2 separate regions of the Homo sapiens genome follow, and region 1 is linked to region 2. Evidence: fine-mapped expression QTL. A gene starts in region 2. The other region holds a variant in brackets. All regions are shown on one strand. Distances are between the middles of the regions.

Region 1 (5,378 bases), 330 kb before region 2:
CATAAGTAGAGCTCTCAAAGCAGTGCCTAGCACACAGGAAGCACTCTAAAAATATTATCTGTTATTATCATGGACTTAAAAGGACTCTTGTTAGCTAGTGTGGGAACAAACAAGCCGACATTTACATGCAAAACTACGTATGGACTCTTCTGTGCCCCAGCCCGCGGAAAGCCAGGGCTAGATAGAAGATTTTCAAACTCAGCCAGTTTTCTATGTGCTTGACAAGATGATACGTTTCCTAACATAAAGGATTTCCTAAGATTATAAGAAAATTATCCGGTACCTATCAGAAAACTATTGCAATGTGTTAAAAGATGTTGGGGGGAAGCTGTCTAGTACACACAATGTTAATTTCCCAGGTGATATTTCTTTAAAGATTTTTTAAATTCACCTCAGTTGTCATCAGAAACATAATGGGAGGACTTATGCATTTTTTTGAATCTTGTTGCAGTTAAAAAAAACCTCAATGTTGCCCATGTTTTTCCACTTTATTTGGATATTTTACCAGTAACTTTATTTTCGTCTCTCTCCACATTACCTCATAGTCTGTCTTTATTCTCCCATATTACAGTGAAGATTCAGAGGCTCAGAGATTAAGTGATTTATACAATGTTATGTAATTCATAGGAAGGACAGCCAAAATTAAACCACGGGCATTTTGACGACTATAGAGTCTGAATTTGTTCTATGATATTTGAGCCTGACAGAGGCATCATCCCACTAAAGTGCTTGTAAAACTGTAGGGCATACAGTACACACTCAATAAACGCTACTGTAATCTCATCATGACTCATCTACTAAGCCTTCTGCAGGATGTTCACACATGAATGTTGCAGAGGAAAAATGATTCAAATACATTCAGAAAATCTTGGGTTAAGCAAAGTTAAATTAGTTCTCTTATTATAAAGTCTTTGAGACAGTAATGAACACTATGAATATCAAAGGAAAAGTATAATTCACAGCAATTTCCAAATCATATTTGACCACAGAACCTTTTTGTTCTTTCTCCCAAAATATCTAAGTAGGACCAATGTTCACAGGAATTAACTTTGGGGGAAATGCTGCATGAGGTCAATGCAGGTAACAGATAATACTTACAATTTTAGTTCACTGGTGGAAAATATTTTGTGTTTGCAGGAAAGCTATTTTACTGTACAAGAGCAGAAGTAGCATAAAAGGGAACTTAAAGTCATTGTTCTAAATCTTAATTTGCTTGAGATGGGGAAGCGGAGTGAGAACAGCTTTGCAAAAATATGTCACCAGTAAAGTAGGAAGTGGGTATTCTTGCAGCTTCTAACAGCTTCAGCAACTTTGTTGTTCAAAGCCAGAGCTGCAAGACACCTTATCTCACAAAGCATACACACGTACACATGCAATCTCCAGGACGTGAAAAAGAAAATGAAGAGAGTTACAGATTTTGTTGGTGCCATTTCATATATAAAATGTTGAGGCTCAAAAGTTTGAAGTAAAACAATGGCAAATTTTGTAAAACTCACTGTGGGAAAAAATAGTTTTGCATTCTAAATGATTCTATGACAATCAGTAGTTTGAGCACAATACGTTGTAGAGAACTTAATCAGCCTGCAGTTATTACATTGAGCAATGTGGTTAGGTTTAATGTCAAGAGATTCAGTCCTGGGCCCAACTCTGTCAGCTTTGGGAGACCTGGGACAAATAACTTCTTTGACCACCTTCTCATTTTGCAAAATGTGAAGGTTGAATTAGACCACCCCTGAGATACCTTCTAGCTCTATAGCTCTGTGAATTTAAAGGAACAGGTAGGTTACGGACTTCTTTGGTTTGTTAGTTACCCCAAGGAAATAGAGTCCTCTCTAGGTAGCAGGCGCACAATAGTAAGAAGGCAGCAACAGAAACAATAAACTTTGGAGGTTAGCCACAGCCCTCAGGAAACAAGATAGGTGTCTAGCCTCCAGCCTGTGGGGCCACTGCATGATGTTACTAAATTCAGGATGGTACTGAAATAAGTGTGAGCTACCAATGCCTGGAAATAATGAAAGCCATCAAAAAGTTATATTCTACTGTTGCCAGGACAAAAGTTCCTGAGATAGTCTACATCTTTCAAAGTCAGAAACAACATACAGGAGAATGAGGATAACTGCCTTCCTCCCACACACCCATGATGCCTAATTGAAATTGTAACCCCCCAGTCTCTGGAAATTAGGCTGGCCTCTTTCCTTTCTGTTTTTGCTCCTGCCTATCAAGATGAAACCTAGTTGTGGTTTTACCAGTGCATTTCTTTTAGCTGCCTACACCATCTCAATTAAAATGGGCTTGAGGAGCCACACCAAATAACTAGCACATGAAATAACTTCACTCAGAAAATCAGGAAGTTGTGTTGCTATTTTTATTTTACTTTTAACAAAAAGCCTCATTTCTGAAAAACTAATGTTTTCGTCTTTGTTTCCTTTCCCACAATTTATGACTGTTTTGAGAGACAAACAGCATTTATCTTTTTAAAGATTGGCACTTTTAAAGAAACACCAGTCAGAATAATCAAGAAATGAAGACCAATCATATGATCATCCAAAGTTGCAGGTTGTTAAATGTTTCATTGTTTTATTTCAAAGTATAGATTATCTTTTGTTAATGATTGTAATAGCAGCAGTGTGCCTTTCTAAACATGTTGTTCTTAAGCAAATATAAAAATGACTTGGGGCCTGGCATGGTGGCTCATGCCTGTAATCTCAGCACTTTGGAAGGCCGAAGCGAGTGAATCACCTGGGGTCAGGAGTTCGAGACCAGCCTGGCCAACTGGTGAAACCCTGTATCTACTAAAAATGCAAAAATGAGCTGGGCCTGGTGGTGCGCACCTGTAATCCCAGCTACTCGGGAGGCTGAGGCAGGAGAATCACTTGAACCCAGGAGGTGGGGGTTGCAGTAAGCCAAGATCGCGCCATTGCACTCCAGTCTGGGCGACAGAGTGAGACTCTGTCTTTAAAAAAAAAAAAAAAAAAAAAAAAAAAAAACAGAAAAAAAATGACTTGGGATTCTCTGAACACAAGACAACAAATATGAAGAGGCCACTGTGGGGCACTAGAATGAGTTCCCGTAGAAGGGAGGCTGTATTTGAGGAGAGCTGATCTGTGCTCTGTACCGGCCCCTGGAGCACATAATCCTTCTGGATCTCAGCTATAAAATGAGTGATTCCATATTCTTGAATGTCACTGATGTCTGGGACACACTATTCCTTATCCATTAGAATTCTCCTATCA[T/C]AGGAATTTTAGACTCCCTGACCTTGAGCCCCTAAGAAGCCAGTAGCATTCACTAGGTTATTCACTATTGTAATGACCAAAAGCAACCCCTTCCCCCAACACCAGCACTCAATTCCAAACACTTCCTTGAAAGCTGGTACTGCCTACCCCCATTTGGAGGCACCAGCCAATGAGTTCTGAGATTCCTTTCTGCCCAGCATTCTTTAAGGAGTGGCCAGGAAGAATACTGGGTAGTTAGGAGCCTGCAGTTTAAAATCTCTCAGAAACATTCCACACAGCATGTACCCGCATGAAAAGGGCATATAAATTGTTGAGCCTATTATTAAATTACACAGCAGCGTTTCTACCTGCTTTCACAGCAAGTTTTGTCACTTCTCTTTTATAAGTCCCAGAAGAAGGCAGAGGTTTTCCCCAATGAGTCAAAAGAAGCCCCCAGCTAGTTACAACCATTGGACACCGGCATACTCCAGCCCATGTGAGTCACTTTCTTGATAGAATGGTGTCAACTCAATCCAACAATGTTCACCGCTTATATCAGAGTCATCAATCAACCGGAGTCTTCTCCAAACCCTGTCTCCCTGTCTGATAGATGTCTAACCCAGTTGCTGTTGTCAAACTCCCTACGCCTACCAACTGGGCTCCTTCTTTGACATATTCTTGGTTTCTCCTTAAAGAAGGTTGAATAGCCAATGTAGTGTCTGCCTGGCTGGATCTCCATTCTGTTCTCTTTTCCTACCTCATGCCCCTTTTCCCTTTCCCCAGCTTAGAGACTTGACTATCAGCAATTCCCCTCCTCCTTATTGTTTATTTGTCAATCTTGCTTACTCCTAAATAATCATCCCACCACAAACGCACACACACAGGTAAGAGCAAGCAAACAAATAGAACCATAACTTTTAAAAAATTTTACAGTACTCCTCATCACAAAGAAAAGCTGAGACACTGGTTTCTCTATGGGAGAAGAGGTCTCCCTGCTTCTGTTCGCCCTTAGTCTATTAGTTGTTGACTTTGCATTTTGCCTAGTCTCTTCTTAGCTTCCTCTTTCATCTTAGAGAGTAACATGTACCTTTTCAGTTATTTCACCATTGAGATGCTGAAAACACTAACAAAAATAAGATGCTTATGTTTTATCTTTTTAAGGTTTTTAAACAAACTAAAAAGAGAGAAAGAGCTTATTTTGATTTCATGGCATGATAGAAAGAACTTCAGACTTAAAGAAGAAAAACAGGATTTTAGTCCGGGAGCTCATGTTTTTAAGCTTTGTGTCCTTGAGTAAATCATTTATTAAACTTATCTGGACCTTGGATTTTTCATCTTTGATAAAAAGGGAGAGTGTTTTTCAGGGTTTCCTTATGCTATGTCATCCCTAAGTCTAAATGATATTCTTATTCCATGTGTTAAAGTCCTGTGCAGAACCAGGAAGATGGCTTCACAAATAATCAACTGGTTTGTTTATGCCAAATTATATAAAAAGCACTGGAACAGTAAATTCAAAGACTTTCAGTCCTAGGGTTTTATGGTTCTATCTCTAGGAACAGAAATTCTGATTCCTTGGTCATTTGTTCTATAAGTGATATAGGATAGGCCCAAAAGGGATTCTATGTACAGAAATCAGTAGCATTTTTATATACCAACAACATTCTAGCAGAGAACCAAATCAAGAACACAATCCCATTTACAATAGCTACAAAGAAAATAAAATACCTAGGAATTCATCTAACCAAGGAAGTCAAAGACCTCTTCAAGGAGAACCACAAAACACTGCTGAAAGAAATCAGAGACCACACAAATAAATGGAAAAAATGTTCTATGCTCATGGATTGGAAGAATTGATATCATTAAAATGGCCATACTGCCTGCCCAAAGCAATTTACAGATTCAATGCTATCACTATCAAAATGCCAATGTCATTTTTCACAGAATTAGAAAAATCTATTCTAAAATTCATCTGGAATCAAAAAAAAGACTGAATAGACAAAGCAATACTAAGCAGGAAGAACTAAGCCAAAGGCATCTTACTGCCTGACTTTAGACTATACTATAAGGTTACAGTAACCCAAAGAGCATGATACTGGTACAAAAACAGACATATAGACCAGCTGAACAGAATAAAGAACCCAGAAATGAACCTACACTTCTACAAAC
Region 2 (5,378 bases):
TCAGATTCTCTTCCACAGAAATACTCACACTTGAGCAGGAAGATGAATGTGTGATCTGCTCTGAAGCAACGTTGCTAATGCTGAATGTCCATCAATATAGGAAAGGATGGATAAATTACATTCTATTTCTACTTTAGGATAACATGTAGCTGGCCGGGCGCAGTGGCTCACGCCTGTAATCCTAGCACTGTGGGAGGCCAAGGCAGGTGGACTGCTTGAACCCAGGAGTTCAAGACCAGTCTGGGCATCATGGAGAGACCCAATCTTTACAAAAAATACAAAAAAAAAAAAGTCAGGTGTGGTGTCATGTGCCTGTAGTTCCAGCTTCTCAGGAGGCTGAGGTGGGAGGATCACTTGAGCCCAGAAGGTCGAGGCTGCAGTGAGCCATGATCATGACACTGCACTTCTGCCTGTGTGACAGAGTGAGACCATCTCACACACACACAAAAAGAATAACACGTAGCCATTAACAAAAGAGGTATCTAGAGACAATGGAAAGATCTCTAAGACTTGGAAAGTGAAAAAGCAAGCTGTACAATAAGTATAGTAAGATAATTTGCATATTTAAAACATATGTATATGTATGTATTATGTAAAACTATAGAAAAGAAAAACAAGCCTTAGAATGGTATTATCAAACTTAACCTTCCCTCTTCTGAGTGGGAGGAGGGAGGATGGTGATGGCACGTCTACATTTCACTTCACTTCTATATTGAGTGAGAATGAGTTGTTATTATTTGTATTATTTTTAAAACACAAAAATAGAATACAACGTGGAGTGCACAAATGCAGAGCGACCAGTACAACTAAAATGAGGAGGGAAGGAAGGCTATGAAGCCACCAACACAGCTGTTGGAAAAGAAATTCTCTCTTCATGTAGCTACAAAGAAGCCTGCTTGGAGGAGGGGATTTCTCCAGCAAGGCCATGATATTCTATTTGTTTTGGTTTGGGTTTTTTTCCCCCCATTTTACACATTTTTTAAGCAATCAAGAAGGATTTTCTCCCCCAGCGAAAGGAGGGCCAAGGCTCACAGTTCCTGTAAGTGAGCAAGACCACACTCACTAAGATTCTCTTCTACTGCAGCCAATGAATGCCCCAGTCCTTTCCCACAAGGAAAATACACACCTTCTTCTTGTTAAATACAGTACCACTGATTCCCCTTTGAAAACCGTAACAGTTCTCCTGATTCGGTTTTGTCCTCAGGACAAAAGGGTTACAAAAACATGAGAGATCCAGGAACACCTCTGCATGTGTTCCTGGTCTGTTCAGGTTAAAGAAAAGGGTAGAGGGGGAAAGAACCAGTGTTTATGTGTTCTCCCCAATGCGGCTCGGGTCCCTGCGGAAGAAACACCCAAGACCAGCCTTTTTCTCTCAAAGCCACCTTTGATACAAAAGGCTTAGCCACACCTGCTGGGACAAACGGGAACTGGGACCAAGATGTAAGTCACAAGGAGGCAATTTACAGCAGAGAACTAGCTCTTCCTACAATAAAATGTGAGGTGGTGAGCTTCCTGCCACTGGAGGCACTGAACAAATGCTACGGGGAAAACAAACTGAGTATTTCCTGAAGATTCTGAATAGAAGGCTGTGTTTGGAGTTTGATGCTTTGAAAGCTCAAGAAATGATTCTCAGACACAGCGGAGTTTGGGGACATCAAGGGCTCTGAGTGCATTTTAAAGCAGCCCAGGAGAGAGACAAAGCAAGACCATAATGAAACACCCCACCCAGTCTTAGAGTTTGAGCTACAGCACGGTGATCATGAGCAGACTCCAAACCCAAATCCTGATACTGTCACCTGCTAGCTGTGTAACCCTAGAAAAGTTACAAAACCTCTTTGGGCCTCAGTTTCCTCAATAAAATATAATAAAAAACTAGTACCCGCCTCACCCGTGAAGCTTAAATGAGCTAGCATATGTCAAGTGCTTAGAATAGGGGCTGGTTCACAGTAAGTATGAACCATTATTATTTGCAGACAAGGAAACTAAGAGGTGATAAGTAGTTTGACCCATGTTCCAAAGTCAGTTTTAATCTTGGGAATAAAACCTAAAAATTTCTTTCTCCTCCATCAGAATTCCTTCTAGCTCAAACTAAGTATCCTACATTCAATTCTATCTTCTCTGCCTTCATAGACCCTTCCATTTACTTCTCTTGAATATCTTGTTCCCAAAGTGTTTTCAAGGCAGGTCTGTTACCAAGCCACTCCATCAGCAGCACCTAGCACTGTGCCTCCCGCAGCAAGGCAGGCAGGATGGATGGACGGATGCAGGCATGCATGGGTAGGTGGATGAAGGGCAGATGAAGAACTATCGAGAAAGGAATCGCGGTGTCAGGGGTAAAGCCCTGGCCTGCGAGAGCCGGGCTCGGATTTCAGTGCCCTCACAGCTAGCCATATGGCCTTGGACAAGTTACTGAACCCCTCCGTGCCTAGGTTTCCAGAATGTAGAGGGCCACTTCCACTCAAGTGGCTGGAGAAGAAGGTAAGCGCCCCGGACGGACGCTATTGCAGAGTCGCCCGGGGATTCCTCTCTCCACCTGTGCTTGAGCTCCTCCCGCTTCTACGCTAGGGACCAGGTGGGAGAGATACACGGATTCCCAGAAAAATGGCTCTCTCAGGTGGGAGTCAAGGGTTACGAGAGGAGAGGTAGGGGAAGCAATGAACTCCTCCACACGATGTGTTGGGAGAGAGGAAAGAGGGATTCAAGTGGGAATTTTCCACTCAACAAACATTCCACCATCATTTGAGAAAAAGGCGCTGGGATGGTGAATTTCAAACAGTCTGAGAAATGGGCGACTCGGCACTGTGCGGCCTGTAAGGAATGAATCATTTAGTTTTCACCCACCAGGTAGGCAGGCCGGGGGCGAGGACCCTCCGAGCGCCGTCCGAGCGCAGGTGGTAGCCCAGCCAAGCAAACGCTGGGCAGAGGCGGCACCGAGGAGGGGAACGGGCTGCTGCACTCCCGGTCGCGTCCAGCCGGGATGGGCTGCGAAGTTGTCGGATTCTTTCCCGCACAGCACGGGGCTCGCCCGTCGGAAAAGCCACCGAGGGCGGCGCAGCGGCAGGGCGCGAGCAGAGCGGGGACGGGCGGGTCGGGGGTACTCACGCCGCGGGCGAAGGGCTCCACGAGCCGGGCCGAGTCCTCGGCGGCGCGTGGGGCGCGGGTGCGGGCTCCGGGGCGGACGTGCAGAGGCGGCCCGGGCCGGGGCTATGAATCAGCTGCGGGGCAAGCGCGGAGGGGCGGGAGTTACTGGAAAACCGCGGGGGAGGGCAGAGGGGTGAGGTCTTTTGCAATTTCCCGTCTTGCTGCGCACTCTTGGCACTCCTGGGACCCACAGGAATTCCCTCCCTTCAGTCCCGGGGGGAGGCGGCCGCGATCCTGGGGGAGGCGCAGCCTCACAACCCGGACTTTGCGGGCGGGCGGGCACTGGTGAGAAGAGGAAGTGGGAGAGGCCTGGGAAGGAAACTTGGAAACCGAAAACTCGGCGGCCGAGGCTCCGTGCCCCGCGCGCAGCGCTGCTCCTGCCCCGGCCAAGGACGCACGGGCCAGCCGGCGGAACCAGAGGTAAGCCGAGTGACCGATGAGGCCTGGGGCTGTGTATCCCACAGGGGCACTTGTCATCCCAACCCAGAGGCCAAACCCGTGAGATCCCCGTCCGAAAATCTTCAGGCAAGAGAAGTCCTTTAACTAAATTTTGGCCGTGTTTCCATTTGGCGTCCAGAGCAACGAAAACGTGTTTGAACCGAATCAAACGGTCCCCATTTTTCCCCTACTCGCGTTCTATCCAGAAACGCCCTGTCCGACAAAGTTTCTTCGGCTACAACAGTCCCGAAACCTTTATTTCCCAATGCTACGACATGCTACACATGGTTTACTTTTCCCCTTAAAAATGCCATCCAATCTTCAACCTTTTTTTTTTTTTTTTTTTGAGACGGCATCTCACTGTGTCACCCAGGCTGGAGTGCAGTGGCGCGATCTCGGCTCACTGTAAGCTCCGCCTCCCGGGTTCACACCATTCTCCTGCCTCAGCCTCCCTAGTAGCTGGGACTACAGACGACCGCCACCACGCCTGGCTAATTTTTCTATGTTTAGTAGAGACGGGGTTTCACCGTGTTAGCCAGGATGGTCTCGATCTCCTGACCTCGTGATCCGCCCGCCTCAGCCTCCCAAAGTGCTGGGATTACAGGCGTCAGCCACTGCGCCCGGCCAAAAATGCCATCCAATCTTTACCGTGTCTGGGCCTTTGAAAGGTGCATTTCACCTCTCTTAGAGGATAACAGGAGCCTTCCGAGGCAGCCTCGGACCGGGAGCTCCCATAGCCTCGCCTGTCTGGATGCCTGACAAATCAGCAGGCAAGGGGCCTTGCTCCAGATCAGCTGAGCCTAGTTTGGTTTGAGTTTGGGGACCCTGGAAAGTATCACAAAAGCAAGGTTGTAGGAGGGGGGTGGGGGAGGGAACCAAGAGTGATCAACAAGTATCGACCATAAACATATCTTAGAATCCTATATTGAATTGACTGGATGACTCAAAATAATGTCAGAATTATTTTAAAATGTTACTTTTGTGTTTGTTCACATATCTGGCTCCTCCCCAATGTCATCCCAAGGAAAGCTGAGAGTCCTTTTGTTTTTTTATTTTTCCTAAAACAAAGGCCTAAAGGCCCTAATACACTTAATACCTAATGGGGCCACAAAGACCATGATGCATAGTAAATATTTGATGATAATAAAATGTATTTTTGTCTCAATAAATGTATGGTCCTTTGCCACACCTCTCATTACTTGAAGAGTTTTAAAGAGTCCATTAGTTTAGCCATCTGCATGGTTATGGAAACTGCCAAGCCCAAGAGTTGGAAAGTCTTTATGATTTTATATTTTACTGAGAAAAAAAATTATTCTTTATAGAAACAGTTAAAAGGGATCTCTCTTCTAGCAAATGAGATGTCAAATAAAAATATTCAGCCCAGTATGAATTTCTAAAAAGTGAGGCTTATTTTGGGCTCCTATTGCAATTGAAGGAGACTGAAGTGTAAAAATTTGGTGCCCACATATAATTTATCTGTTTTTGCACCATTCTAATTTCTTAAATTTATACGTTATTCTAGAATCTAGATGCAGTAGCACCATATAAATTCGCGATTATACCCTTAACAGTGGGTGCACTGGGTCCATAAAGTCAGATCCACCCAAAACCTCCAAATATCAGTTTATTTGGAAATAATGTTTTTGCAGCTTTAATCAAGTTAACCTGAGGTCATATAAGATTAATCCAGTGTCTGCTGTACTTCTGAAAAGGGGGGAATTTGGACACAGACACCCAGAAAGAACACTGTGTGACCACTGAGACAGATCCTGCTTATGCTGACTCAAGCCAAGGAATGG

Alleles and levels. Positions count from the first base shown, and alleles are read on the strand shown. Sizes are in standard deviations (SD) of each study's normalised expression.
For the expression in tibial nerve of the gene that starts at base 3,217 in region 2, C is the low allele of the variant in region 1 and T is the other (small effect, 0.37 SD a copy in GTEx).

What was found. PIP is the estimated chance that this variant, and not a neighbour inherited with it, causes the effect. A credible set is the group of variants that fine-mapping cannot tell apart.
Region 1: its variant is the best candidate, but not a certain one, in a credible set for the expression of OSMR in tibial nerve (GTEx, PIP 0.80).

What each region holds. Positions count from the first base shown.
Region 1 is chr5:39,173,747-39,179,124 of GRCh38, reverse strand. The region is part of intron 2 of FYB1 (FYN binding protein 1); the gene reads left to right. Among named protein-coding and RNA genes, the nearest start is that of FYB1, 43 kb to the left of the region's middle. RefSeq lists enhancers at 2,075-2,154, 2,185-2,244. The variant T/C (reference allele first, on the strand shown) is at 3,234.
Region 2 is chr5:38,843,851-38,849,228 of GRCh38, reverse strand. It overlaps OSMR (oncostatin M receptor), which reads right to left and starts at 3,217. Exons shown (of 18, transcript NM_003999.3): 1 at 2,842-3,217. OSMR-DT (OSMR divergent transcript) reads left to right here and starts at 3,400. Exons shown (of 4, transcript NR_109951.1): 1 at 3,400-3,561.